Regions from separate parts of the Homo sapiens genome. Here regions 1, 2, 3, 4, 6 and 7 are each reported to be linked to region 5. The links are microRNA targets in miRTarBase. Many come from high-throughput screens and were not tested one by one. Region 5 holds a microRNA gene; each other region holds the end of a gene's coding sequence.
Evidence for each region. Region 5 holds the annotated microRNA hsa-miR-6756-5p (AGGGUGGGGCUGGAGGUGGGGCU, at 1,607-1,629, opposite strand). A microRNA usually pairs through its seed, bases 2 to 8, with sites in the 3' UTR of a target mRNA and lowers its output. Matches are read on the target gene's strand: a 7mer-m8 pairs with bases 2 to 8, a 7mer-A1 pairs with bases 2 to 7 and ends in A, and an 8mer does both.

Region 1 (4,070 bases), not on the chromosome of region 5:
GACCTGGAGGCAAGACTCTAACCCTCCCATCTCCCACCTTGGTTTCTCAGGTCCTGGGGGTGACCCCCATAACAATGGGAGGTCTGGACGCCTGGAAGAGTAGTTTGTAACACAAACCCAGACATGTTTCTGTCTGTAGTGGGAACATCCAAGTCTAGTCTGGCTTCCTGTAAGAGATTAAGGGGGTGGGGGGTGAAAAGTAACGGCAGGGGCTAAGCTGTAAAATGGGCCCGGAGCTAGGGATTTGCAGACATGGGCAGAGGTTGCTGACTCTGGTAAGGAAAGTGCTTTTGGACTGCCAGGATTGAAGGAAGTCCTAGATTGGTCACTTTGCCCTCTCTGGAAAAGTTGTTCCAAGATAATTTCCTTCAGAGGAAGGGATACAAGCAGAGAAGTGGAATCAGACAGACAGAATGAAAGCTGAGTGTGGGGGTGGCCAGAAGCCCTGGGGCACTGAGGCAGGATAAGGGCGGTGGGCAGAGGGAGACTGTTTCCCTAAGTCAGCATTCTCTGGCCCCCCAGAGGCTGGGCACAGCTCTCCTCTTGTGATGTATACAGATTAACTCATCTTCCATCCAAATAAATCTCTCAGCACACTGCACAGTTCCTTCTGCATCCCAGATTACCCTTCCCATGTCAGGACTTGCCCCCCTTCCCCTACCGCTCACCCTATTCCAATTAGCTGGGTGTAGATGGAGATTTCACTTCACACTTCTTCCTCCTCCACACCTTGGCCTCCTGGCCTAGACATGGCTCCCTGACCGCAGAAACTCCAGTAGCCACCAGGCCTTTTGCAGGGGCATCTAATTATGCAAGATCTACAGAGGGGCAGGGCAGACCCAAAGCCTCGTACAAAGATCAAGGTTTCTGTGCATTTTCTGCCCTTCTCAACTCCTTCCCTACTGTATACTCAGTCTCCACCCCTATTCCTCTATCACTGAACTCAATTTGAACCTAAATGACCAAATTTTCAGCAGATTTGATCTTTGAGGGAGAATAAAGCCCAGCTTGTCAGACCCTTTACCCTGGAATCAGTGATGAGAATTCTGCCCATCCGTACTCCCTATTTTCCACTGGGCAAGTAGGAATGCCCACTTGAAGAGGGCAGCAGTTCCCATGACCCTTTCCTGGACAATGATCTTTTTAAGTTGGAAAAAGGAAGAAGAGGAGACCATACTGATTGCTGGCCCCAACTCCCATACCAAGACTTCCATTAGTGCTGAAGGAGAGGGGAAAGTGTCCCACTTGGCCTCATTTTAGGACCCAGAGTGTAAATGGATACAGTGTGTTTGTGTGTGAGTATGTCTATTTTCTTTGGTATGTCTAACCTTCCCTGCAGAGCCATCACAGAGGACAGCTCAGGCTTGGCACAGGAAGCTCCACATGTGTCCTATCTACCTGAGCCCTATCTGCTGGTATAGATATTAGTAGTCACTCTGATTTGCAATCCCCCATTTGGTCCCCACCAGCTCTTCTGAGAATGGCAAATCAGTAAAGTCTGGCCTTTCTGTCTCCCAAGATGGGGGATATAGAGGGTTCTCTCTCTGGGGAAACAGTTTCCTACTGAGCAGACGGAGGGTTCAGTCTCAGTTCCCTATCCACTCTACTCCCTCAAAAATTGGAAGTTATATACTTCCACACTTTGAAATTACTTGAACCGCAGTCCAGCTTTTGTTCCTACATCCCAAGGCTGGTCTGGATGCCAGCACCATGGACAGCAACCAAGACCCCCTTTGGGAGAGGGGAGGGGACAAGGTTTCCTGGGCAAGGATGTGTGTGGGCCTTTGCAAGGGAAGCATTTTCTCCAAAACATCCCCAGGGAGGAAGGAGGCAAAGCAGAACCTTCCCTGATAGAAGGATCAATAATAAGAAAGGCCTCCAGATCTGACTTTAGCCGTGAATGAAGGAATTATTTAATTGCTGTTGAATGGTTTACTTAAAAACAGCATCATTCATATAATACACAACCCCAAGGTCACAGAAGAAAGTGCCCAGGCTTCAGGCTGACCCACATTGTAAACAGTCCTTCCCAAATCTTTTCTCTATAAACAACAGTCCTCTATGCTGCTGCCTCCAAACATAATGCCATCCATTAATACCACTGGCTGGGCACACCGGGATCAAACCTGTGACCCTAAACTGCCATGGAAATAGCTTAAACTGGGGTTGGAGACTCATAACACTGAGTGGGGGGATTCCCTCCATCTCACTCCAAATGAGTCCAAATTCACTTCACACTGCTTTTCTGGGTGAGCACAGTACTTGAGAAGGACTGATAGAACCCAGATGATCTCCAGAACAAGGCAGATGGCTCCAGCCTTCCCCAGCCCACAGGCCCAAATATTTAGAGTCAGAGGAGTTCTCATTCTTAACAAATAACCACCATGCTTCACATTTGCAATGTCTATTTCCCCTCATATTTCCATACCTATTATGTCACTCAACACAAAATTCCATGATTCTGTGCAACTCCAGATGAAAAACACATTTTAGAATTTGTTACACCAGCTACTATTTGAAATAAATGGACCATCAACTATTCTAGAAATCTCTTTATGTCATTGCTGATTTTCTCTGCAACGGCATCCAACCTGTCCCTCATTTATCCTTATTCCAACCCTATGAAGTAGACAGGAAAACCAGAGCTAAGAGATTTTTTTCTATATCACACAACTCATAGGTGGCAGGTCCAGGTCTACCCTTTAGATACCTCGGAGTGCTGCCACCTAGCAGCCAACATGAATTATTCACCAGCAAGTGGGAGTCACACCTACAACTCAGAACCCACTGCTGCATTTGGGATTTGCAACCTGTGCAGAGAAACCTCCCCACATCTCCCAACCCTCCAGAAAAGCCCCAGATGAGAAAGGAGTCTCCACGTGCATATAAATGATTCTTTATGCCCTTCCCCCATGCAATGGGGGATGGAGCAGGGGGAACTCCCCGCCCTCATGCAGGGAACGGGAGGTCAATGTATACTAGTCTTATTGCCAGATGCCCTGTGGCCATGGGGTGGGGAATAGGGGTCTACAGCCCCTTTCTTCTGGCATTGGTCCCCCTTCACCAAGTCACCGTGGTGGAGCTGGGGGGCTGGAGGCCCTAGGAGCTGAGGTAAAGACGGTTCTCTCCAGGGAAGGAAAGCTGCTCTCCCCGCCTGCCCACCGGCCGTCTCTGGATGAGTGGGAGGAGCTGCCAGCGGGTACTGAAATGTCATCCAGGTGTCTCTACCCAGTGGGCAGTGAGGCCAGACAATGTCTCCAGCTTGAGGCTACCCACACAGATCCTCGGTGACGGGGGCAGCATGCCCCAAACACCTTGTCCAGCTGGTACCTCCAGCAGCCATGAGAGTTCTTCTCTGACTGATGCATTGACTCAAGATCCCTGCTCCTGGAGTCCAGTTCAGACTGTAGTGACCCTCATGACAACCTCTCGGCCAGAATGGGAGCTGGAACGGGCATCTGGTGGCCGCAGCTGCCCAAGGAGGTGCAAGATTGTATAACCGCAGCGCTGAGGCAAGAGCGTCCGCATGCGCTGGGCAGCTGGGGGGCGGCTCGTGGCCCCAGAGGTGGGGCCCGTCCGTGAGTTCCTGGGGCCTGACTTCCCTGCCGTCCCTCCCCCTGCATCTCCTCCTATGTCCTTGGTCTTGTCATAATTTAGGACCTTCCACTGCTGGTTCACTGCCTGCCAGCGCTTGAAGATGCGGTAGACAGAGGAGCCTTCATGGATGATGAGGCCTGAGCAATAGGAATAAGAAATCCAGGGTTAACTGTGGCCTAGATCTAGGCCAGAGGTACTTAAGCAAGCATTTCTTCAGAGTGAGAAGATACAGTTGCAAAGGGCCCTGGAGAAGCAGGGAAGTGGGTTGAGGGGGCACCAGGATAGCACTAAAGGCTACAGTGGCAGAAAATAAAGCCAGGAAACTGAGGGGATGGGCAGGGGAGTTAGGTGTGTAAGAGGAAGATACAGAGCAGGTAAAGGAGAGAGAGGTGCCCTCACCTATGCAGACGACATCCATGAAGCCATACATGCCGTAGCAGATCTGAAAGAGCAGATCCTGTCGTTGCCACTTG
Region 2 (4,085 bases), not on the chromosome of region 5:
GGAAATATCTGGTAGCCAGGGAGGGGGAACCCCTACCATCAACGCCACGGGTGTGCATTGGTCAAAGGCAGCATTGCCTGGTGAGTGTTTATTGGAGCTTTTAACCCTGAGCCCTGGGCCCAGTCAGCAAGTCTAGAATCTAGAACAGCAGGGGGTGGTTCTTGGGGGATGGGGGTGAGCCCAGAGTGGTGGTGGCATGGGGCTGCTCTTGGAGTTGAGAGAGGCAAGGACTGAGAGACATGATAGAGGCTGCTAGAGAAGTGGCAACTCTCAGACACAAATTTGTGAAAAACAGCCAGAAAAGGCGCCACACCCCAGGAAGAAAAATGCACTCCAAAGACACATGAATGCCAAGATATACACAAACACATACTGTCAGACACATTCACAGAAACGACCTAGATACACATGCAGCCAGAGACTGACATACACTTTCAGGCAAGCACACTGTCAGAAAAATAGTTATGTCCTAGAATGACACCCAGAGATACACTGTTACAGAAAGGCACTCACGCAGACCTACATTTGCCATGTGATGACACAGAAATGTCCCGTCACACTGGCAGAACTTGTCACAAACACACTGTCACCATCAGATATGCACTGTCACAGCAAGACTTGTACTGTCCCAGAAATGAGAGACGCAGAGTCTGTCACAGGAAGATGCACAGATGCTCCAGGGACACACATGCACTGCTCTGAAGGCAGACATGTACTGATGTGATAGAATCACATTTTGTGGCAGTGTCACAAAAACAGACATGGATAGACCTGTTCAGACACAGACATACATACACCATGACACATGCAGTTTATCAATGGAACAAACTGTCCAGAAATAGCTACCCAGAATCTGTTGCAGGAACACAAACGGACATCCACCCCATCAGACAGAAACCACAGATGCACTGTCACAGACAGACCCACGCAGGCATGCACGCATCTTGGATTTAGACACAAACTGTCAGAGATAAGAGTCCCACACTCAGTCACCATCTGACACACCTGGAAACAAGCCCTTCATCACACACACAACTGGGGACACTCTGTGAGCTGCACATGAAGACTTGGACTCACCACAGTCACACACACACAGACAACACCAAAAAAGCACACATGTACTCTCCTTTGTTCACCCAACGTTATTGGGGGTGGTTTGCTATAAGCCTGCCAGGCCTTGATGGGGATGTTGGTATCAGAGATGTACAGATAAGTCAGGCATCAAACCCGTGCCATGAAGTTTATCTGTAGTACAGCTACTGGGGAGATTTTTAGATAGAAGTGAGAATGTGAATGGGCTTCTCAGCAGGTGACCCTCTGTCTTGAAAGACAAAGAAGGTTGGTGGCTCAGGACAGGGGAGGGCAAATTGCAGGCAAAGGCCAAGAACACTGGACAGAGCGGCGAGAGATTGGCAGGGGCCAAATGGTGCAGAAACTTCTACAAAAAGAATACTACTAACATTTGTGCTCTCTCAATGTGCCAAGCACTGTGCCCAGGTAGTACGTTACTTTGATCATACATATTCCCTCTAGATGATCACAGCAGAAGCATGAGGGAGTAGATATCACTTTTTTTTTTTTTTTTTAAGACTGAGTCTCGCTCTGTCACCCAGGCTGGAGTGTGGTGGCGCAATCTCGGCTCACTGCAACCTCCACCTCCTGGGTTCAAGCGATTCTCATGCCTCAGCCACCCAAGTAGCTGGGATTACAGGCACGTACAACCATGAACGGCTAATTTTTGTATTTTTAGTAGAGATGGGGTTTCTCCATGTTGGCCAGGCTGGTCTCGAACTCCTGATCTCAGGTGATTCACCCACCTCAGCCTTCCAAAGTGCTGGGATTATAGGTGTGAGTCACTGCACCCAGCCTAATCACCTCTTGTACAGATGAGACACTTGAAACAGAGAAGCAATTGACCAGGGCCAGGAAGGTTTCAAAGCAACTCTACAACAAATAGATGCTTGGCCACTGGGTTCCAGACACACTCCGCAGACAGCCACTCAGCTAGCCATGCCCTCAACTGCAGAACCAGACACACATCCTGTCAGAGGGTCTCCATTATCATGGCATGGTGAAAAAGCTGCTTGAGAAAACCTGGGGGCCAGCCAGCCTTCTTTACCTTGGATTTACCCCTAGGGAGGACAGGCAAAGAGGTGTCAGACTGGGGGACAAGAACAAAAAAGGGTTTAGCCGTCCTTCACCTTCTAAAACCTAGTGGGTGAGGCCCCTCTGGTTACTTCCACTAAACTCATGTTGCTACAAAGTATCAGTTGCACTTTTCCAAGGCTTTTCTTCATCAGATCATGATAAGGAAAGAGCAGCATTCATGGTGAGAGGCAGGCGGAGAAGCTGGAATTCAGGCAGGAAGTTCAAGCTCACAGTCCTCTGCTACCATCACCCCCCCCCCCCCAGGAAATAGGGTAGGCAGGGGTGGGGTCAGCAGGCAAAGACGCAGCTTTTCCAGTGGCAATAGGTCCAGAAGGAGGTTTAATAAGCAGCAAATCAAATACAAACTCCAGGCCCCCAGACAGACCCTGCTGGAGAGCATTCACACCTCTGAGGTCAAGCCAAGGTCCGTGCCATTGCATCCTCTGCCCAGAGGCCCGCCCAACCCCTGCCCCACACAGAACAGAGTCGCTCAGGGAAACTGACATTTGGTTTTATTGTGCCAAGGACATTACAGATGGCGGATCTTGTCAACACCTGCAGGGCACGGGTGCCCCATCTGCCAAGGCTGCTCCCACACTCCCTACACTCAAATCCCGGGTGGCAGCCATAATCCCCAAAGATGACCCCCACCCCAAGATTCCAAAGAAGCTAGTGGTGGTGGAAGCAAAAGGAATGCAGCAAGGTCAGGGTTTCATTGTCCAAGCCGGCCTGACACCTGCCGCCCTGCCCTTGCCCAGTGCACACCCTAGACCCTGGGCCGGCCTCCATGCAGCTGGAGGCCAGAAGACAGCAACCCATATCTTTGCACCCTCCTCCATGCCCCATGGCCTGCCTGCCCAGAAAGATGCCACCTTCACAGAGCCAGTGCTGTCGTCTATATCATTTTTGATTAGTTGATTTTATAAGATAAAAGTAATTTTAATAAAGAAAAAATTCAACATTGAAGGCTCAGACGTTCTTGGGGGTACTGGGAAGGGAAATTTCCCACTTCTTCCTCCCACCTCCCTGGCATCAGTGTCGGGGGGTGGCGGCAAGTTTTTCTCATCTTGGAAGGAATGAGGGGCAGGGAGACTTTCCTCTGTCTGAATGTCTCTCTCCTCTGGGGCTGCCTGGCTGCCAGTTGGTCTGTCTCTGTGTGCCTCTTGTCTATCTTCGGCACCCTTGCCCGAGTCCCCTGTGGAATGCAGGGATGGTTCTGTGCGGGATGGGGTGGGGGGCAACAGGGCACATCAGCTGGCAGAGAGACAGGTGATAGTGGCAGCGGCAATGAGAGAGAGTGCAGGGGTGGGCTAGCCAGAGGGAAGTGAGGAGGAGGGAAAAGAGGGGAGAGCAGAAAGAACAGAAGGAGGCAAGAGGGAAGAAGCCAAAGAAGGTGAGGTGGCACCGGAGAGCAGGAGTACTGGGGTTGGGAGATGGTGTCCAATCCCTGGGTCTCCATCAACTCTTGTCTGGGGGCGGGTCTCTGTGCACTTTGTTTTTCTTCATACTGTCTAGGTATTCCTGTTGGGACACTGCCAGCACCGAAGCTAGGATCTCATCATCATCCCAGTCATTCAGACCTGCTGGGCGAGAGGAAGAGGAAAAGGATGATGGAGCGCTCTCAGCCTGCCTTCTCCTCACCCTGTGCCGACATCTGGGGCTCTGGAGAAATCCCATAGGGCCCTTCTCACTCCTTTCTCAAAACAGAAGGATCTGCTAGGCCTGTGAAACCCCACTTAGACCCCAGACCCTTCTGGGGCAAATTCCTTGGATCTGAAAAATCCCCTCCAGTGCCTCTCCCTTCTTTTCTTGGGGAGATGGCCAGAGGCTCCAGAAAGCCCCTCTCAGGACTTGCCACTTCTTCCAGTCTCTCCCAGCTCCTAGCAGCCTCCATCCCCCCAGACAAAGGAGGCTTACCAAAGGCAGAGGGGGACATC
Region 3 (4,073 bases), not on the chromosome of region 5:
TCCCTACCACAATCCAGAGTCCCCTCAGAGACAGGGAAGCTGAAAACATGTCCCTGCTGGAACCCAGGTCTCGGGGTAGGCGGATCAGGTGTGGCTTTTTTTTTTTTGAGACAGAATCTCACTCTGTTGCACCCAGGCTGGAGTGCAGTGGCGTGATCTCAGCTCACTGCAACCTCTGCCTCCCAGGTTCAAGCCATTCTCCTGCCTTGGCCTCCCAACTAGTTGGGATTAAAGGTGTGTGCCACCACACCTGGCTAATTTTTCTATTTTTAGTAGACACGGGGTTTCGCCATGTTGCCCAGGCTGGTCTCGAACTCCTGACCTCAGGTGATCGCCCTTCTCGGCCTCCCAAAGTGCTGGGATTACAAGCATGAGCCACCACGCCTGGCCTCAGGTGTGGCTTTCAACCTGGGGGCCTGACCCGGCATGAGAGCCCTGCAGGGGACTGTCCTGCTGTTTTCTCACCTGCACAAGGTGGCCAACAATACCTGCCCACAGAAAGGAGCAACTAGTGGCTTGCCTGGCATCCAGCTGGTGCTTAATAATGGCAGCTCTTATGACTATGGAAGGCAACAGCTCCTGTGTGCAAGGAACTTGTGTGTCTTGTAGAATCAGGGCCACACGGCCAAGCAAGAGAGGCCGGAGCAGCTGGAGAGGGACACCGTCACCATCGATCTGACCTTACTTAAAATGAGACAAAACCACAAGGTATTCATGATTTGAAATTTTTATTTTCTGAAATGAAACAATTGTACATTGTACAAACCATATCTACTGATGGAATAAATAAGTGAAAAATTATACTGCTGTACAACACACCAAAAAAAAAAAAAATTCTTGAAAGGGGAAAAAATTAGGTAACGGTGAAAAAAGGTCTTTATGCCTCTAACCAGGTTCTTGGCGATAATGAACATTCCAAACCATGACACCGTTTGCTAATGGGAGGTCACCACCCTAGAGGAATCGGTCCACAGCCTTCCGGGTTGTGGGTGTAAGTGCCAGCACTTTGTGGAATGTGTAGCCGCAGCTTCCCCGACTTCACGTTTTGGGGGGAATTAGGTTTGCCCTGGGAGCCCTTGAGGCCACGGGGCCTGATGTCCACGGAAGGCTTTTGCTCGGGATCCCCCGCCCCCTGGCTCGAAGCTGAAAGGTCTTAGATTCTGTGGTGGGGGGAGGGCGAGGGGTGCAGGGTGGGTGGGGGGCAGCGGCTCGAGGAGCGACTGCGCCAGGGAAGGAAGCACATCGGATTTTTGCAGTCTTGTCATTCTGCGTGGAAGGCCTTCTTGGCCAGCGTGGAGTGCAGGGCTGCTGGCGCTTTGCCTGGCGTGGCCGTGGTGGGGCCCAGCTGGTCCCAATCGCCGGCCCATTCCTACCTTCAGGCACTTCAGAGAAATACTAGTGACAGCCTTGGGACGGTGGACGTCGTCTGAGTCCTCACCTGCGCCAACTCCCCTTGCCTGTCCAGAGAGGCTGCGGTCAACGGCAGGGCCACCTACGCCTCTCTGTTTCTGTGGATGTGTGTGTTTCATTCTCCTTCAGCTGTCTTGGTTGTAGCCTCTCGTTTCCCAAAAACAGAGAAGGAAATAAATATCCAAATTCATCTCTCACCAAGATGGAGTTTCGCTGCAAAGAAAAATGTGACTCTAACTCTACGGAATCTGGAGGTAACGCCGCCTCGAGATGCGTGGAGAGGAACCGCATCAGGTAGGTTCTGCGCCAGGATGCAGGACACAGTTCTCAACAAAACTGACTGCCTAAGGGGCAAAATTGATAAGTACAAGGATTTTTTTTTTTAAGACAGAAACCTTTCGGCATTGCTAACTTCAACATTAAGATTTTCAAAGTTGTGGTTTTTTTTTTTTCCCTTATTTCAGGAGACATTTTGCATGAGGTATTTGAAATTCAGGAACATTTTGATTCTTCTCGAAGTGCAGGAAATAGACAGGATCCCTTAAAAAAAAAAATAAGAGCCTCACCCTCAGAAACTCTTAGAAAATGGAATCCAGCAGACACTTCCCATGATGGTCAGGAGAAAGAGCCACACGTCAAAGGTGGTACCTGAATATGCACCAATTAGCCCCCAAAAACAACAAAACCCATGACCCCACCCCACCCCCAGTAACACACAACTCAAAGGGAGTCAGAACTCCAGTGCAGTAAAGAAAGCTTAGGAAAAGGTTTAAGGTCTGAGGAGTTCATATATTAATTAAGAGCAAACCAGGCCTCAGAACCAAACGATTAGGCAGTTCGTCCAAGGGGGCGTCTCCGTTCAGTGAGAGGAAGCTGTTCCAGCGAAGGTGGGGGATGGGAGGGAGGGGAGATTGCGTCTCTCCTTTCTGGAGGGTGTGCAAATCTTTCCAATTCCTCGACGCCTTGTTTGTGGCCTTCGAGGCCCGGCCATCAAGGCCCACTCCCCGGTGGGGACAGACGGCATGTTCTGGGGATGAGACACGGTCCAGCTGTTGGCTCAGAGTCAGAACAGCCTGAGAATAGGAAAGCACGTGGATTCTGACCACTGCGATCCTGCCTCTCCGGGGCACAGGCTGGGGCGTCGGGGGAGGCAAAGGGCAGCAGGTGACCGTGGATTTGAAATCCAAGCGACGTCCTATGAGAGAAAGTTCAGCACCAGCTAATCCTGCCGCCGGCTCCCAGCCTCCCCGGCCCACTCAGTGCCTTAAGGAGACAGCCTTGCAGTCAGCCAGAGAAGCCATTTCGTATTCGGAGGTCTGGGAGAAAGCAGTGATGGGGGTGGTGGTGGTGGGGGCAATAGAGAGGAAGTGCCAGAAAATTCCAAGGGCTTTGCACGTCCATCTGGGCCATGGTGGGCTTGGAGACGCCCAGTCCTAAACGCCCCAAGGAGGGGAGAGCACAGCGAGTGCCCAGCCTGATCCAAGGGGCCGAGCCCTTGGGGACTGTGCCCCAACACCTGCGCGTCCTTGGGCCCTGGTGCCTGGTGCTTGGGGCGTGCCTAAGGTCCCCCTGCACCTGCAAACCAGGTGGGCTAAGGAGCTCCTTCGCTCCACCCTGCCTGCTCCGATGAAGTCCTGGGGCAGGGAGGAGAGCGGTGAGTAGGGTGGCAGCCGCCGCCCGAACCAAACCAAGAGGGCACTTTGCAGAGGGGGATGTAAGAACCACCAGGATACATGCCAGAGGTCACCTCAAGGGCACAAGGCACAAAAAAAGAAAGCGGAAGGAATCGGTTGAACAGTGGAAAGCCCCGCCAAAAAGCGTTCCTGATCGGTACCACCCTCCGATAGCTTATATCGTTACATAGAGAAGTGGGGGGAAAATACAGCAGCAACACAAATGGAATCCTGGCTTCCGAGACAGTGTGCAGACACTCCTGAGCTGTCAGCCCCGCCTGCCTCCCCAAGGACAGTCCCTTAAAGGTTTGAGTGTTTTGCTTCACAGCAGAGTTCTTCAGTGTCTGAGAAGTGACGCCGTTCTGGGTCTTCTTGGATTTGCACTTGGTAAACTTGAAACGTTAGTAGTTCTGTTCGCACCCAAGAGGAATCGCTGGGGCAAAGTTGCTCTAGAATTAATTGCTGATGTACCTTCCATGGAACATGGATCGGAGGCTTTAAAGCATCGTCTACATCTCTTCGGAGTTTTGTTGAGAGGCCTCCAGTTTCATCTTTTTAGAGGGTGGCACTCCTTCCAAATCCTTGGGGAGAGGAGAAAAGGGGAACACAGGTTAATGGGCCAGGAGAGCAAGTTAGGCCAGGCGTGAGGCCGAAGGTCAGCCAAGGAAGGAACCGAGCGGGGGCGGCTTTGTGGTTCAGACCAGCAGTTCCAGACCCGAGGCCCAAGCGTGGACTCCAGAGAGTTTGAGGACCTATGGAGACCCTCACACCCAAACTCTTCCTGGAGCTATGGAGCGCGGTGTCCCCTGGCCCCTGCCTGACCCTATCACATGCCAATGGCTGGTAACTCGGGAGCATTTCCTACACTGCTGCCTTGGACCCTAGGCTCTCCCCACTCATTCAGACTGGACCAGAAGTTGCTGTTATCAATCTTCCCATCTATGATTCATTGCTAGGGTGATTACTTGTGATTATTGTTTCAAGTTCACC
Region 4 (4,009 bases), not on the chromosome of region 5:
GGCTATGCCAGGTGTCCCTGCAGCAGGGCCGTGTGAGCCTACAGCTCCTGAGGACTGAAGTGAAAACTCAAGCGGGCTTCGCCGATGGTGCCCCCCATTACGTCGCCTTCTACAGCAATGCCACGGGGTGAGCCTGGCCGCTGGGCCCTCATCGTGAAGGTCTGGAGGGACGCCCGCCTGCACTTGCCTGGACCTCTGTCTCCTCTGAGGTGGGGGTGGGCAGGGTGGGGAAAAACCGAGCCTCCGGCCTCCCGCCCCCCAGAGTCTGGCTGTATGTCGATGACCAGCTCCAGCAGATGAAGCCCCACCGGGGACCACCCCCCGAGCTCCAGCCGCAGCCTGAGGGGCCCCCGAGGCTCCTCCTGGGAGGCCTGCCTGAGTCTGGCACCATTTACAACTTCAGTGGCTGCATCAGCAACGTCTTCGTGCAGCGGTGAGCCTGGTGGGCGCTGGGGGACAAGGTCCCAGCTGGCCTTCCGCAGCTGCTGACCGCCTGCCCGCCCTGCACAGGCTCCTGGGCCCACAGCGCGTATTTGATCTGCAGCAGAACCTGGGCAGCGTCAATGTGAGCACGGGCTGTGCACCCGCCCTGCAAGCCCAGACCCCGGGCCTGGGGCCTAGAGGACTGCAGGCCACCGCCCGGAAGGTGGGCACCCCAGGGGTGAGCAGGCAGAGCTGGGGTGGCTGGAAGGGTGGCCCCTGTGTGGGCGGCCCCTGCATTCACCATCCACGCCCCCAGGCCTCCCGCCGCAGCCGTCAGCCCGCCCGGCATCCTGCCTGCATGCTGCCCCCACACCTCAGGACCACCCGAGACTCCTACCAGTTTGGGGGTTCCCTGTCCAGTCACCTGGAGTTTGTGGGCATCCTGGCCCGACATAGGAACTGGTAAGGCCAGGCCCGGCTGGGGTGGGCTGAGAGGGGCCGCGCAGGCTGACGCCAGCTCCGCTTCCAGGCCCAGTCTCTCCATGCACGTCCTCCCGCGAAGCTCCCGAGGCCTCCTCCTCTTCACTGCCCGTCTGAGGCCCGGCAGCCCCTCCCTGGCGCTCTTCCTGAGCAATGGCCACTTCGTTGCACAGATGGAAGGCCTCGGGACTCGGCTCCGCGCCCAGAGCCGCCAGCGCTCCCGGCCTGGCCGCTGGCACAAGGTGAGGGCCGAGAAGAAGGAAGGTGGTGGGCAGGGCCTGGCAGCCCTACCCTGACCCATCTCCTGCCCCCAGGTCTCCGTGCGCTGGGAGAAGAACCGGATCCTGCTGGTGACGGACGGGGCCCGGGCCTGGAGCCAGGAGGGGCCGCACCGGCAGCACCAGGGGGCAGAGCACCCCCAGCCCCACACCCTCTTTGTGGGCGGCCTCCCGGCCAGCAGCCACAGCTCCAAACTTCCGGTGAGAACCATCTTGCCCCAGCCCCCACTCCCCACCCACTGTTCCCTTTCAGCTGCCCTGGGCCCTGATCCCTGCCCGGTCTGCTCCTATAGGTGACCGTCGGGTTCAGCGGCTGTGTGAAGAGACTGAGGCTGCACGGGAGGCCCCTGGGGGCCCCCACACGGATGGCAGGGGTCACACCCTGCATCTTGGGCCCCCTGGAGGCGGGCCTGTTCTTCCCAGGCAGCGGGGGAGTTATCACTTTAGGTCTGTGGGTGCTGGCATCCCAGGCCTCAGCAGGGCAGGGCAGGGGGCTCCAGGAGGTTCTGGGGAGGGGCCCCCCCTTTCTTCTCCATCACAACCCCTCCCCGCAGACCTCCCAGGAGCTACACTGCCTGATGTGGGCCTGGAACTGGAGGTGCGGCCCCTGGCAGTCACCGGACTGATCTTCCACTTGGGCCAGGCCCGGACGCCCCCCTACTTGCAGTTGCAGGTGACCGAGAAGCAAGTAAGCCTGGCAGAGGTGGCGTGCCAGGGCAGGGTTTGCCTCCCCATTCTGGTGACCTCGGGGGCATAGCCTGACCCTCCCTTCCTACCCCGCCAGGTCCTGCTGCGGGCGGATGACGGAGCAGGGGAGTTCTCCACGTCAGTGACCCGCCCCTCAGTGCTGTGTGATGGCCAGTGGCACCGGCTAGCGGGTGAGGCCCCTCCTGTGGCCAGGGCACTCTGCCACCCCCACCCTTCTGCAGAGCGGGAGCCAGGCGGGACTCTGGGTGGGGTGGCTTCTTTTGGGGCTGGAGAGAGGCTGGGCTGAGGACCACCTGGCCTCAGGAGTCCCCCTTTCTCCCAGTGATGAAAAGCGGGAATGTGCTCCGGCTGGAGGTGGACGCGCAGAGCAACCACACCGTGGGCCCCTTGCTGGCGGCTGCAGCTGGTGCCCCAGCCCCTCTGTACCTCGGGGGCCTGCCTGGTGAGTGCGGCCTTGATCAAGGGTGGGGGAGCTGCCCCTCAGGACTAGGTGCTGCGTAACCTACCACCCTCCCCCCACCCCTCCACCCCCTGCCCCCTCCCACCCTCCTCCCACCCCCCTACCACCCTCCTATGATGTGGAATGAGACAGGGGCTGGGTGGGGCACTGACGTTTGGGAAGGGCCTGTGGGTCTCTAGCTGCCCACCAACCAGCCTTCTTCCATCTTCCCTGTGCCCCCAGAGCCCATGGCCGTGCAGCCCTGGCCCCCCGCCTACTGCGGCTGCATGAGGAGGCTGGCGGTGAACCGGTCCCCCGTCGCCATGACTCGCTCTGTGGAGGTCCACGGGGCAGTGGGGGCCAGTGGCTGCCCAGCCGCCTAGGACACAGCCAACCCCGGCCCCTGGTCAGGCCCCTGCAGCTGCCTCACACCGCCCCTTGTGCTCGCCTCATAGGTGTCTATTTGGACTCTAAGCTCTACGGGTGACAGATCTTGTTTCTGAAGATGGTTTAAGTTATAGCTTCTTAAACGAAAGAATAAAATACTGCAAAATGTTTTTATATTTGGCCCTTCCACCCATTTTTAATTGTGAGAGATTTGTCACCAATCATCACTGGTTCCTCCTTAAAAATTAAAAAGTAACTTCTGTGTAACCGAATGAATGTTGACTTAAATACGGAGAGAGTGAGTCTCAAGACAGATCTGGAACCGGCCTGGACAGAGGCACCAAACTCTTCCTGGGGTGACCGTTTTCCGTTGTTAGGTCAAATAACTAACTGTCTCTGGGACCCTACAGCAGCTCCCCACGCTAGCACCTGTCCAGCCGAAACTCCCTTTGGGCAAAGAAACTAAGCATTGGCAGGTAAAAGAAAAGACTTTATTAATAATCAGTGGGTGGGAGGTGAGGGTGTGCAACGCACTGCAAGCGCCCAGTTCCTCGGAGGACGGCGCGTGGCTCAGTCCAGGCTCATGTCCTCCTCTTCGTCCTTCTTGTCCTTCGTGTCGCCCTCTTTCTGCTCGGGCTTGGCGTTGTTCTGCATGGCTTTGGCAAACGCTTCCACATCTAGAACACGTTAAAGACACAAGGTGGTGTCTAACCCTTGCCCAGAACTGGGGATCAAAGCGATGGGATCAAGGGCAGAAGGGCTGTGACCTTTACCCCCTCAGCCCCACTTCTGCAGATCCAGGGGGACAGGAATGGACCCTGCCCCTGGCTCTGGCCTGGAGGTGCAGGCGCAGCCACTTACCGCCCTTGTTGGCGGCCTCCACAGCCTCTGCAGGCAGACCGAACTGGCACATGAGGGGGCCCAGCTGCCCCGAGGCCAAGGCTGCGCTGAACATGCCCAGGGCCTGCAAGAAGAGCCAGGCGAGGGCTGAGCTCCAACCCGGGCTGCACCCCAGAGCCACACTGCTCAGCTGCCAGCTCTGCGGGTCAGGCACATGAAGCACTGGCCATGGTGAAGGTGGGGCAGGGCCTCCTCCTCCCCCCTGCCCACTCCCTGAGCACACAGTGGAGGACACCCTGGGCCCGGCCTCTACCTGCTGGAACTGGGGCGAGGTCAGGGTATTCTGGATCTCATCCGCGGTCTGCGGCAGCGACTCCCCAGATGGCAAGTAGGGAAGCAGGCGCTCCTGGACATCCGCGTTGGCGAGGATGGGAGCCATTATCTCCGGCGTCAG
Region 5 (4,085 bases):
GGGTGCTCAGGACTCGCTGTGGATCTTGGTCTTGTTCACTTGCCTGCGAGGAAAGGAAGGAGGCAGCTCAGGGGATGGGGAGGATCTCTGGTCCTGGCCACAAAGCGCAGGCAGGGATTAGGAGAGTGTGGCAGATGAGACACCCGCTCACCGTGCCGTTGACGTTCCAGGAGATGGTGGGCCGGGGGTGCCCTGACGCTTCACAAGACAGATTCAACACCATATTCTCTTTCACCCACACCTTCCTCTCCTTGAATGCCATCCAAGGGGGGCCTTGGGGAGGTAGGGAGAGGTGAGGTGGCAAGCCCAGCTAGCCTGCCTCCCCCTCCGCACCAGAGCTCCCCAGGGCAGCAGGTGGCTTTTTGTCAAAGAGCTTAAAAACCACCCCACTTGGGGTGACCTGGTCTCTACCCAGAGGGAGGGCCTCACCAAAAATGGCCACGTTGACCAGCTGTGTGCGGTTCAGGCCGGGTATGCTGGGCACAGACGCCACGCAGCGATAGCCGCCTCCTGCCTCCCGTTTCAGGTCATGCAACTGAAGCACAGGCCCCCTTTCCAGCACCTGGCCTGTCTGGGATGAGAGATGGGTCAGAGGGTCTGGGAAAGAGCACATTCTTGTCACCGCCAGCCCCACCCACCCCATCAGCCCCTTGCCCCAGACCCGCCTGGGTACCTCTTCTCTCAGCCACTGGAACTCGAGGTCCTGGCTACTCTCTGCCTCACAGGTCAGGGTGAGGCTGCTGCCTTCCTGTCTCTCAGGGGCTGCGGGACTCACTCGGACGTCAGACACATCTGGGGGTACAGCAATCATGTCACCCAGGGCAGGGTGGGGCCAGTTCCCTATTGCCCCAGCCTGGTCCCCCTGTCCTGGGTCCCCAGCCCCTCACAGTTCACCAGTAGTTCCTGTGGTTCACTCAGCAGCGATATCATGGTGTCCAAGTCCAGGCCCTGACATTCATAGCGCCCACTGTGTTCCTTCCGGGCAGGCTCCAGCACCAGGACCCCGTTGTCGTTGGTTGTCTCTTCCTCTGCCTCCCTGGTGCTGGGGTTCTAGGGAGGATTGGGGAGGTGAGCAGAGTGCACCTCCCGCCACTCCACCTGGGTCTCTGCTTGCATCCCCACCTGCACCCAGCACAAAGCCCCCACACCTGCTTGCTGATGCTGAAGTGTGGTGGAGGGTTGCCATCAGCCAAACACCTGATTTCCACGCGGTCCCCTTCCTTCAGCATTCCCACGGGCTCCACTTCCAGCCACACTTTTTCTGTCGGGTCTGCATAGGCAAAGGGGGTAGCTCTTGGCCCATGAGTCAACCCTGGGCTGGATAAGGGGGAGCCAGCAGGAGTTTCCAGCAGCCCCAGCCCCAGTAAGCAGAGAGTCAGGTTAGTACTCACAGAAAACAGGGACGGTGACTTCCCTGGACTCCTTCATGTGGTTCCCACTGGGCAGCCGGTAGTTGAGCTCACAGTAAAACTGGGCATCTTTGTCTTCTTTAACCAGCTGTGCCTTCAGAATACTCTGCAAGGTGTACAAACCACTCGACTCCACAGTCTGGGACGACTGAATGTGGACCCCTGGGCAGGGAGGAAGGGGAGGAAGACTCAGCCTCAGCCCCACCTCCAGCCCCACCCTAGGGTTGTCCACTGGGGTTGGCAGGGGACCATCTAAATAGCCCCCTGTCCCCTGTAGAAGGCCAGGTACAAATGCAAGCTGGAAACCCTTCAACCCAGCACTTTTACTGCTCAGTGTCAACCCTAGAAAAACATTTTCATGTCTGCTCATATCCAAGGATGTGTGCAAAGAATGCTGCAATGATAAAAACGAGCAGCCGTCTAGATGTCCACTAAATGGGGAATGGTGAACTCGACTACCTGCTATGCGTAGTATGGAAAACTTGGCAGTAAGCAAAACGATCAGTTGATCTAAATAGACTGACCCAGAAACATTGTATAAAAGAAATTGTCTAACAATGTATACCATACACCACCACTTAGACCAGGGTTTCTCAGCACTACTGATAATTTTTTTTTTTTTTTTTTCAGACAGAGTTTCACTCTTGTTGCCCAGGCTGGAGTGCAGTGGTACAATCTCGGCTCACCGCAACCTCCACCTCCCTCCCGGCTTCAAGTGATTCTCCTGCCTCAGCCTCCTGAGTAGCTGGGATTACAGACATGCGCCACCACGCCCGGCTACTTTTGTATTTTCAGTAGAGATGGGGTTTCTCCGTGTTGGACAGGCTGGTCTTGAACTCCCGACCTCAGGTGATCCGCCCACCTTGGCCTCCAAAAGTGCTGGGATTACAGGCGTGAGCCCAGCCAGCACTACTGATGTTTTAGGCCACGTTGATTCTTTATTGTGGGGGCTGTCCTGTGCCCTATAGGATGTTAGCAACATCCTTGGTCTCTCTACCTACTAGATGGCAGTAGCACCCCCTCTATGTGTGACAACCAAAAATATCTCCAGACATTGCCAAGTATCTCCTAGGAGGAGGGGGTACAAAATCACCCCTGGTTAAGAATGACTGATTTAGATAATAAAACACAGAAGCCTATATCATTCTAGAAATATTTCTATATATGAGCAAATACATAGAAATAGGCTTGAAAGAACACACCCTGATAGCAGAGATTATTTCTGGGAGGGGGGGTCTCAGGCAAGAAGAAACTTCTAGATTTTTTGTCAGTTTAAATTCTCATGAAAATATTTTCAAGTACCATTTGTATAATTTTTTTAAGTTAAAAGCTTAATGAAAATATAAGGCAGTTCCTGTGTAGTACCATAGGGACAGCTCTTTTTAAGAGATGGGGTCTCGCTCTGTCACCCAGGCCGGAGTGTGGTGGTGCAATCCTAGCTCACTGCAGCCTTCATTTCCTGGGCTCATATGATCCTCCTGCCTCAGCCTCCCAAGTATCTGGGACCACAGGCACACACCACCATGCCTGGCTAATTTTTTTATTTTCTGTAGAGACAGGGTCACCCTATGTTGTCCAAGGTGGTCCTGAACTCCTCACCTCCAGAGATCCTCCTGCCTTGGCCTCCCAAAGCACCGAGATTACAGGTGTGAGCTACCACACCTGGCCCAAGGGTGGCTTTTGGGAGAAAGGGCTACTCACGGTTCTTCTCCTCCTTCAGAGGCCGGCCATTCTTGTACCAGATGACTTGAGGAATGGGGTACCCGTTCCTCCCTACACAGGTAGCGACCTAAAGAGCACAGGGTGTGAGTCTCCCTGCCTCCGAGCCCCCTTCAAGCCCCATCTCAGCGGCTGCGCACCAGCTGCCCAGCCCACCTGCCACACATCTCACCTCCTCAGGCTCCTTACTGTTCACAGGGATGCCCAGGGGGTTGACCTGGATGTTTGGCTCCTCCGGAGCTTCTACAAGAAAATAGAAATGAGGGGGACATCTGGCCACGTCCCACCACCCTCACTACCCTGCTGGCAGACACAGGGTCACGCACTGTAGACGCGGAGCTGGATGCGGTACTCCTGGGACCGAGGGCGCTTGCCCTGGCACAAGAAGATGCGCTCGTCTTGGGGGGTGACTTGAGTCAGGGCCAGAGTAGCCCCTCTGTCCTGGAGGCTGAGCCGCTGCTCGTACTCCCCAGGTTCGCTCTGGCCCTGGCCCTGGCGCACACGGAAGATGAGCGTCCGCTTCTCCTTGTGGACCTAATGGGAGGAGACACAGAGGAGGAGAAGGGTCCTGGGCTACAAGAGGGGCAGAGTCTCCCTCCCCGGGCTGCTCTTGCAGGAGCCCAAGCACTCACAGAAAACCAGTCGACATGGCTGAGGTTGCCTTGGGACTGGGAGAGGCCGCACTTCAGAAGGGCTGTGCTGCCCACTTCCACCTCCACCAGCTCAGGCGCAGGCTGCTCAGCCTCTCCGGGCACACCTGGGGGAGGGAGGCGGGGCCCCCGCAGCTGTGTCAGCTCCGGCTGCTGTCCGCCCCTCCCCTCGCAGCGCTGCTGCAGCTGTTTTTCCTGCCACTCAGAGGGTCTGCAGAGGGCCCTGTCCTCTGAACGCTCTACCCCCACCCCGACCCGCGCCCCACCTGGGCCAGCCCTCTCCCCGTCCAGGAGATCCCAGGTCCTT
Region 6 (4,000 bases), not on the chromosome of region 5:
AGGCCCTCACATTGGCTGATGAGGACGTTTTGTCTGGCGCCTGTTCCATCCCAGCGCTCTTCTGTGTGCCATTTCAACGAATTCTTGCTGCAGCCAGGTGTGGTTTCAGCCTCATTTTATGCCATACTCACCCAGCAGAGGCAGTGGGAGCCCCAGTAGTGCACAAAGCCTGCACCCAGCCTGTGCCTCTCCTTACCCTTGTCCCCAGCATTCCCGGCAGCACCCCATGATCTCTCCCCAGGACTGCAGGATGCCGGCTGGAAGACCGAGAAGCACCAGCTAGAGGTGGATGAGTGGAGGGCCACATGGCTTCTGTCTCCCGAAAAGAAGGTCTTGTGAGCAGCCCAGACGGAGGCCCAAGCCCAGGGCAGGAACCTGGAGCAAGGACACTTTGGCCACAGCAGGACAGGGGAAAGGCAGCTTTATTTTTCCTTAGGGCAACTGCAGCGGGTGGGCCAGGCCCTCATGGGAAGTGACTGCCAATCAGATGCAGTGGGCCCCAGGCAGAGGAAGGCCGGGAGAAGGGGAGCCAGGACCTTCTCACCCCACTGCCCCTTCCCCTTTTCTGGGGAGCACCGCAGGCTCCTCACCCCCACTTCCTGTGAGGCTGTGGCTTATGGTGTCCAACGCAGTTGGTCTTAGGCATAGAAGCCCCAGAGGAACACGGCCACTGCCATCATGAGCAGGGCATTGAGGTTGACCACACGGGCCCAGCTCGGGTCCTCGCTGATGTCCTCCAGCCGCCTGGCTGCTGCCGCTGCCTCCTCCTGGGTAAGGGGCGGAGGACTGCCCACCCCACCTCTGCTCATTCCACAAAACCAGAGCAGGCACTGGCGGAAGAGGCTTGGTGCCGGGGCCTGGGGCTCTGAGGGAAATTGAGGCCCTGCAGTTAGTTTGCGGGAACTCAGCTCCTCCAGCCCCACCTCCCAGCATGGTGCCCTACCATTCATCTCCATGGCACTCTCTGGGCACCCATTCTGTACAGGGAGTGAGGAGCCTTGCTGCTCATCAGCATCCAGGTCCTCCCGTTCCTCCTTGCTATGCCGGAGACTGAAGACCAGGCGGTGGAGCTGGGGAGGGTGGGAGCACGAACGAGGTGGGAGTTCTGTCCCCCCATGCCTGGCCCTAAAGTCTCTTGCACACCAGCTCGTCACTGCCTGCCCTACCCACCTCTGTCCAGTCTACACACCCAGCCCAGGCTTAACTCATGCCAACTCCACCCTACATGGCTGCCCTGTGCCCTCGGGATAAACCCCAAGCCCCTGAGCTTGTGTTTAAAGCCGTTGGCCTTGCTCCCCCAGCTTTGTCAGCTCAGGTCTGTCTACACCCAGATGGTAGCGCTTGTGACACTGGCCTGGCAGTCCTGCTCACAGTGTTCTGTGCCTGTGTGCTCCCACCCTTTCCTCCTGCTGCTGCAGAAACCCGGCCATCCTTCCACACCCAGATCTCTTGTCCTGTCCTCACCCCACCCTGCCACCATCAGCCCTGCCTGGAGCCACCTGCCCTTTGGCAACAAAACCAAACCTTTTTGTGGGCGTTCAAGATGGTATTGTGCCCACCAGTCAGATCCTGTGTTTTGAGTCCCAAAGGCCATGCCAAGGATTGGCTTTGGGAGGCTTTAATCACCAACCCATCAACATCAAGCCTCCCCCAGGCCGGTTCAAATAAATGTATTTAAATAAAAATTCTTGCTCGGCAATTGCAACTGCAGCTGGACCCCCAGCCCATTCCCAACCCTCAGTCGAGAAATTCAGGTCCTCCCAGCTGGGCACTCCAGGAAGCAGAGGGTAGGTGCTGTGTCCCACAGTGCTTGCCTGGGGCACCTGGCCACTCACGTGCTTTCTGGGGATGGGCGCGGTGCACAGGGAGACCGTGAGGGTGAGGAGGCCAGAGCAGAAGAACAGCACAATGGCGAAGTAGAGGTAGTGCACGCCGCAGAGGAAAGCTGGGCACGCCGAGGGCTGCACACAGCTGCCCGAGCCGAAGGAGAACTCGGGAATCAGGCGTGCCAGGCCCATCAGCAGGCCCCCGATGAGTCCCCAGAAGGCGCCCTGCGAAGGAAACAGGTCAGCCTGCTGAGGATGTGCAAGCCCAGCCCTGCCGTCACCACGCGCGTGCCGCTCACCTGCTCATTAACGCGCGGCACGAAGAGCGCCAGCACGAAGACGGCGGACACGGGCGGTGCCAGGTAGCTAGAGACTGCCTGGATGTAATCGAAGAGCTGCCCGCCCTGTGCCGCCTGCACCACGGGAAGCCAGGCCACCGACACTACCACGATGAACACCACCCAGAGCCTGCGGCGGAGGCCGTCGGATCGAACCCGGACCCTGGGCTCCCCTGCAGGTGCGCAAGCCCCCGCCCCGGGCTGATCCGTTGGGGAGGAGGGGAGCCCAGGCCGCACCGTCCCACCAGCAGCAGCTCGCGGTCGCCGGCGCGTGGCCGCAGGCGCGTGTAGATGTCCATGGTGAAGAGCGTGCTGCTGCTGTTGAAGATGGAGGCCAGCGAGGACATGAGCGCGGCCAGCATGACCGCCAGCATGAGTCCGCGCAGACCTGCGGGCCGACGGCAGCCGTGAGGCTGGGGCCACTGGGGGTCCAGGGCGGCTGCAGCTGCGCGAGGGACGACCCCTCCCAGCAGCGGGCTCCGCAGCGAGCTTGCGCCTGTGGCCCGGGGCTGCCCTTACCGTTGGGCATGAGCTTCACGACGAGCCGCGGGTAGGCGATGTTGGAGCAGCCCACCTCCGTGCCGCACACGCGCCTGCACACCTCAGGCACCACGCACGCCACCTCGTCTGCCAGAGAGAGGCCACCGCGCCGTTAGGACGGGGCCTGGTCTGGGAATCCCAGGAGGTGGGGACTGGGAATCCTAGCAGAGGAGGCGTGCGACCCCCGGAGGGAGGCGGGACTCCGGGCCCAAACTGCCGAGTCTTAGGAGGGTGACGGAACTGGGCGACGGGCGCCCGGTTGCTGGCACAGGAAAGGGGCGGGGCAGGGATGTTACCTGGGTACAGAATGCGGCTGATCATGCCTGGCATGACCATGAGAAACATGGGCGTCAGCTTCAGGTACCCACACAGGATGCAGCCCGCCTTGATGTGGGTCAGGCTCTTCCCGGCCAGGCAGCGCTGCACGATGACCTACGGGAGGGGCGTTCAGCTGCCCGCTTGCGGGCCTCCCCTCGGCCCCGCCCCGCGCCCCGTTCCGCTCTGTGCCCCGCCTCTGGCTCGTGAGTGCCCCAAGTTCAGCTGCACGCTTGGAGTAGATGGAGCCTTCTGTCTGGTTTAGCACCAACCCGAGGGGTTCCCGCCCCTCAGACTGCGCCTTAGACCGTTGTGGGGAAGGCGGGGAGGGACTCAGGCTCCGCCCGTCTCGGCTCCGCCCCGGCCTCACTGCAGGCGCAGCCCTATACCCGCACCTGGTCGCTGCACCAGTACCAGCCCGAGACGATTGTGAGTCCGAGGAGCAGCGCGGGCCACGGCAGATCCCCGGTCACGGGGTGCCGGAGCAGGTGGTAGGAGTCGGGCCGGGGTCGATAGCAGAAGCTGGAGATGTTTCCCACGGCTGGATCCTCGGACACCGTCAGCGAAGTCGCTGCTCCCAGGTATTTGTCGAAGAGACCCGAATACCCGCCCACCTCGTGGAAGGCTGCCGGGCAAGGCCGTCAGGGGACCCTCCTTAGGACCCTCAGACCGGAGACGCGCAACGGCCCCGCGCGCAGGCCGAGAGCTCCGCGACCATGCCCTCCGCGCCCCTCCCTGGTAGGCGAGCCCCTACCGTAACCCATGAGGATGCAGGCGCCCCCCAGAATGACGAAGGTCTGTACCGTGTCCGTGTACATCAGCGCGGCCAGCCCTCCTGCAACAGGCCGGGGTCAGGGGACAGCCCAGCTGTTTATGTTACAGGCTGGCCTTAGCAATAAGGCGTCTTTGTGGGAATTTGAAAGAGTTCCCCTTCCTGGAGAATAAATTTCAAAACGATAGCCTGTTCTCGGGGCTCATGCA
Region 7 (4,076 bases), not on the chromosome of region 5:
AGCTGAGATCGCACCATTGCACTTCAGCCTGGGCAACAAGAGCGAAACTCCGTCTCGGGAAAAAAAAAAAAAAAAAAAAAAGACAGGCTATCACTATGGTGCCCAGGCTGTTCTCAAACTGGGCTCAAGTGATCTTCCTGCCACTTCCTCCTAAATGGTGCTGGGATAGGCATGAGCACCATGCCTGGCCTACATTTTTTTTTTTTTTTGAGATGGAGTTCTCCCTCTGTCACCCAGGCTAGAGTGCAGTGGCACGATCTCATTTCATTGCAACCTCCACCTCCCGGTTTCAAGCGATTCTCCTGCCTCAGATTACAAGCACCCGCCACCATGCCCAGCTAATTTTTTTGTATTTTTTAGTAGAGACGGGTTTTACCATGTTGGTCAGGCTGGTCTTGAACTCCTGACCTCAGGTAATCCACCCGCCTCAGCCTCCCAAAGTGCTGGGATTACAAGTGTGAGCCACCATGCCCGGCCTACATTCTTATATATACTTTTGAAGACTGACTTTGAGGTAGATCACGCCCGGTATTTTTCAGCACCTAGTTCACTTACACTCTCAAGCCTTTCACAGTGGTTAAGATTCCAAACCTTCCTTGTCTTGTAGGAACGACTGAGACGGCTAAACCACAGTGTTGCCAAGGAAACAGCCCGCAGGAGAGCAATGCTGGATTCGGGAATTTACCCCCCTGGCTCCCCAGGCAAATAACAGATGAGCCTATGGACTCAGTAGCACAAGTACTGTTCCCCAGCTGCCTTGTTTCAACAGACATGCAAAGATCCTAGGAGACAGTCCCCATAGACCTTCAGACATTAAAAAGGGAGCCGTACAGTTTGTTTGAAGCACTTCGTCTTACCCATTTATGTAGGGGCCCCAGGAAACCTACACACAGCCAGAATGAGGTTCCCAAAGGACTTACATTAATTATGGCTCTTGCTTCCTTTCACAAATGAGCTGAGGCCTCTACTTTTTTTTTTAAGCTGCATACGTGAGGCTTACCTTCTTCAGGACTAGTTAACCAGAGGGGCTTCCTTTGTATGTTACATGCCTGGTTACATGGGCCTGGACAGCATGTCCTCTACCTGTGACTTCTCATTTTCCTGTTTACACTGGGGATTTGGAGGGGGCAGGCAAAGTCAAAGTGAATGACCTCTGTCCACCCACTTTTTTATTGCACTGGCTTGAATACAGTAGCAGTGTTGATAGAATCATTTTATTCAATAAATACTTAAAATGATATTCTAGTTTACTCTGGTATATGGAAAGGTTCCAGGAGTTTGTCCTTTAATTCAAAGACAGCTTCAAATTGTGATCTGAGTATTTATAATTAAATGACTCAATTATCATTTTCAACAAAAGAGTACACAAAGCCAAAAGCAAAAAAGGTTGCCACATGCAAAAAAACAAACAAACAAAAAACACCAACCAGAAAGACCAAGAGCCCTACTAGGAAGTACTTTAATAGTTTTTCTTAGAAAAAAAAATTTCCAGACACTTAACATTTCACAACATTTCAACAGCAAAGTATTAGTTGAGAGAGGGGTTTTCAGGAGTTGGAGATTATAGAATATTAGGAAGAAATGTTGGTATCCTCCATTATAGATGGATGGCATAGGTCACAAATGGGAGACTGGCAGCTAAGCCAATATCAAAACCCAGTGGAATGACACTTCTATGGAGTTTACTTTTCTTCCTGCTATCTTCCCTATCCCACGGAAATGTCTGTCACCATGTAAAGCCCAGTAGCAGGCAGCTTAGGCTCCAGTCTTCCCCCTTGGGTAGGAAAAGGAGTGAAGGGAATGTCACTCCTGAGTTTCCATGCTTTCTTCTTCCTCTCCTTGAGGTGGTTCTTCTGTATTCTCCTCTTCTTCCTCTCCTTCCTTCTTCTCTGGTGGCTTCTCATAAGCCTTTTCTGAAGGTGTTACTATCACTCCATCCCAGGTAGATATTTCAGAAGCAAGATCTAGGAAAGAGAAAAAGGTGATTTAGACGAGTAGCCCAGCATAAAAGTCATTACTTACACTGTGGAAATATTAAAGACATTTAAGTAGTGTACAGCTTCTCTGTACCAGATTACAATACAAAACCCCTGACCCACAGTGGTCACTCACAGCTGGCATCACCCTCCTGGCCAAGGATCTTCCTAAAGCCACCATGTGAGAGGATTCGGACGAGAGTCTGAGCTGTATAGCAGACCATGTCCTGAAGGAAAGCAAAGTGAGAGTAAGCAAGGAAAATCAAAGGACCTTATTTGAGTAATACCCTTCTGAAAACAGAGATTAAGACAGCTTTTTAAATCTCAGGACCAAAGTCTTTCAGAATCCCCAAATTCCTGACCCGTAAAGACCATATTCCGCTTTGCCTGCTGAGCAGCAGTATTCAAAAGAGTGGGGCAAAACAACTCAGTTCATATCTGTCCCAATACCTGCTGTTCTAGGGTCATGACTGTGTGTACTCTAAAGTTGCCACTCTCACAGGGGTCAGTGATACCCACTGAACCTGGCAGGAACAGTCCTGCAGCCAGAATCTGCAAGCAGCGCCTAGAACACAGGGAGGTATGAGGTATTAAAGGAATGCACAAAATAGTTTACAACCAACCCTAAACCCAAAGCATGCTGTACCTGTATGCAACGTTTAGGGCCAAAGGCTGTCTGGTGGGGTTGTTCATCACAGCATAATGGCCCTGAAAAATAATAAATCCAGTAGGTGTGCCATCAAAATGGCACTTCTGATAACTAGAACTTTATTTTTTAGAGACAGGGCCTCACTTTGTCATCCAGGCTGGAGTGCAGTGGCGCAATCATAGTTCACTGTAACCGCGAACTCCTGGGCTCAAGCAACCCTCCTGACTCAGCCTCCTGAGAAGCTAGGACTATAAGTTCAAGCCACTACAACTGGCTAATTTTTTTTTTTTTCTCTTGTAGAGACAGAGTCTCGCTATTTTGCCCAGGCTGGTCTCAAACTCCTGGCTTCAAGTGATCCTCTGGCCTCAGCCTCCCAAAGTGCTGGGATTACAGGCATCAAACTAAAACCTTAAATGATCACGAGGAAAACTGGTCATTAAGGTCTAAGTCTAGCCAAAATTTTCATGTTCAGAAGCAATTCTGAAATGGCTGCTCACTCATTTCTCTCTACTACCATGATTAAATGGTAGCAGTCATGAGAAGAAAACGGGACACTATAACTCAGTAACTACTCATTTCATTGAATATACAAAAAAAAAAAAAAACTTTGAATTTTTTCTTTTTTTTTAAACAAATGTCTCTGAGTCATGTAAATGTTGAATTTTTATTGGATTACTTGTCTACCAATAAAATTTCTTTTAAGCTTCACCAAATTTCAGACTCTGGTGAATTTCAGAGTTACTACTACTACTACTACTACTACTACTACTACTACTACTAGTAAATAAGGATGATGAGGAACTCCAATTGCCCATCTTTACTTACTAGTAGGTCAAGGATCCAGGGTGTGAGGGGCTCAAAGCCAGGAAAACGAATCCTCAAGTCCTTCAGTAGTCTGATGAGAACTTTAACTCTGAAAGTAATAGTGACCCAAACATTAAAATCAATACGATCATGTATTTCCATGCCTAAGGTAGAATTGAAGCTGACTATGCTATTTCCAGAACTATACATTCTCTGCTTTCTCTAAATCTTAATTTGCTTCCTTAAGGTAAAAATAAAAATCCAGACACGAGGTCACAGGCAAAATAGTTCTGTCAGAGGAAGTATGGGGGTATCCTGCTATTCACTGCAGTTAAAAAGTTTATCTTAATCCAAATGGTTAGAGAGGGACTCACGTGGACTGAGAAGCATTTTCCTCGAACCAGCGGGCATGTCGGATGGCTGCTAAGGCACTCTGCAATACTTTGATATCCACTAAAAAGACAAGCATGATATGCCAGGATGAAACATTTTCATTAAACAAGCTACTCATTACCACTGCTACAGTCTTAAAAACTTGGAAGGAGGGCAGGATAGACGGAGTCTCGCTCTGTTGTCCAGGCTGGATTGCGTACAGTGGCGTGATCTCAGCTCACTGCAACCTCCGCCTCCCGGGTTCGAGCAATTCT

Region 1: miRTarBase lists MARCHF9 as a target of hsa-miR-6756-5p. Seed matches in the 3' UTR shown: 7mer-m8 at 3,011-3,017.
Region 2: the mRNA of OTUD5 is a reported target of hsa-miR-6756-5p. Seed matches in the 3' UTR shown: 7mer-m8 at 3,452-3,458 and 7mer-m8 at 3,377-3,383.
Region 3: miRTarBase lists BCL7A as a target of hsa-miR-6756-5p. Seed matches in the 3' UTR shown: 8mer at 1,192-1,199 and 7mer-m8 at 1,189-1,195.
Region 4: the mRNA of ADRM1 is a reported target of hsa-miR-6756-5p. Seed matches in the 3' UTR shown: 8mer at 3,221-3,228.
Region 6: miRTarBase lists RUSF1 as a target of hsa-miR-6756-5p. Seed matches in the 3' UTR shown: 7mer-m8 at 790-796, 7mer-m8 at 1,393-1,399 and 7mer-m8 at 1,465-1,471.
Region 7: miRTarBase lists SNAPIN as a target of hsa-miR-6756-5p. Seed matches in the 3' UTR shown: 7mer-A1 at 1,158-1,164.

The regions. Positions count from the first base shown.
Region 1 is chr12:57,758,227-57,762,296 of GRCh38, reverse strand. MARCHF9 (membrane associated ring-CH-type finger 9) reads right to left here. Exons shown (of 4, transcript NM_138396.6): 3 at 3,997-4,070; 4 at 1,886-3,734. The coding sequence ends at 3,400. Among named protein-coding and RNA genes, the nearest start is that of MARCHF9, 5.2 kb to the right of the region's middle. RefSeq lists enhancers at 2,788-2,837, 2,958-3,017.
Region 2 is chrX:48,919,568-48,923,652 of GRCh38, forward strand. It overlaps OTUD5 (OTU deubiquitinase 5), which reads right to left. Exons shown (of 9, transcript NM_001136157.2): 8 at 4,066-4,085; 9 at 2,457-3,728. The coding sequence ends at 3,607. Among named protein-coding and RNA genes, the nearest start is that of PIM2, 2.6 kb to the left of the region's middle. RefSeq lists enhancers at 754-813, 1,507-2,391, 3,936-4,085.
Region 3 is chr12:122,058,683-122,062,755 of GRCh38, reverse strand. It overlaps BCL7A (BAF chromatin remodeling complex subunit BCL7A), which reads right to left. Exons shown (of 6, transcript NM_001024808.3): 6 at 712-3,664. The coding sequence ends at 3,593. Among named protein-coding and RNA genes, the nearest start is that of LINC02985, 2.6 kb to the left of the region's middle.
Region 4 is chr20:62,308,038-62,312,046 of GRCh38, reverse strand. ADRM1 (ADRM1 26S proteasome ubiquitin receptor) reads right to left here. Exons shown (of 10, transcript NM_007002.4): 8 at 3,869-4,009; 9 at 3,577-3,679; 10 at 3,185-3,392. The coding sequence ends at 3,286. LAMA5 (laminin subunit alpha 5) reads left to right here. Exons shown (of 80, transcript NM_005560.6): 70 at 1-127; 71 at 263-433; 72 at 511-646; 73 at 740-885; 74 at 953-1,145; 75 at 1,218-1,382; 76 at 1,475-1,628; 77 at 1,736-1,869; 78 at 1,966-2,059; 79 at 2,212-2,331; 80 at 2,572-2,982. The coding sequence ends at 2,711. Among named protein-coding and RNA genes, the nearest start is that of ADRM1, 7.0 kb to the right of the region's middle.
Region 5 is chr11:119,311,379-119,315,463 of GRCh38, forward strand. It overlaps MIR6756 (microRNA 6756), which reads right to left and starts at 1,634; the gene lies at 1,572-1,634. MCAM (melanoma cell adhesion molecule) reads right to left here. Exons shown (of 16, transcript NM_006500.3): 2 at 3,761-3,885; 3 at 3,455-3,662; 4 at 3,301-3,371; 5 at 3,111-3,198; 6 at 1,392-1,571; 7 at 1,149-1,270; 8 at 888-1,050; 9 at 674-792; 10 at 430-571; 11 at 152-273; 12 at 1-43. RefSeq lists an enhancer at 3,743-4,085.
Region 6 is chr16:31,487,174-31,491,173 of GRCh38, reverse strand. RUSF1 (RUS family member 1) reads left to right here. Exons shown (of 13, transcript NM_022744.4): 13 at 242-1,699. The coding sequence ends at 339. It overlaps SLC5A2 (solute carrier family 5 member 2), which reads right to left. Exons shown (of 14, transcript NM_003041.4): 6 at 3,774-3,854; 7 at 3,415-3,644; 8 at 3,001-3,136; 9 at 2,684-2,791; 10 at 2,402-2,552; 11 at 2,126-2,294; 12 at 1,836-2,051; 13 at 944-1,070; 14 at 405-865. The coding sequence ends at 639. Among named protein-coding and RNA genes, the nearest start is that of SLC5A2, 6.1 kb to the right of the region's middle. RefSeq lists an enhancer at 1,627-2,286 and a silencer at 3,284-3,443.
Region 7 is chr1:153,660,593-153,664,668 of GRCh38, forward strand. It overlaps SNAPIN (SNAP associated protein), which reads left to right. Exons shown (of 4, transcript NM_012437.6): 4 at 608-1,260. The coding sequence ends at 709. It overlaps ILF2 (interleukin enhancer binding factor 2), which reads right to left. Exons shown (of 14, transcript NM_004515.4): 9 at 3,804-3,882; 10 at 3,451-3,538; 11 at 2,623-2,684; 12 at 2,427-2,541; 13 at 2,113-2,203; 14 at 1,196-1,964. The coding sequence ends at 1,804. Among named protein-coding and RNA genes, the nearest start is that of SNAPIN, 3.9 kb to the left of the region's middle.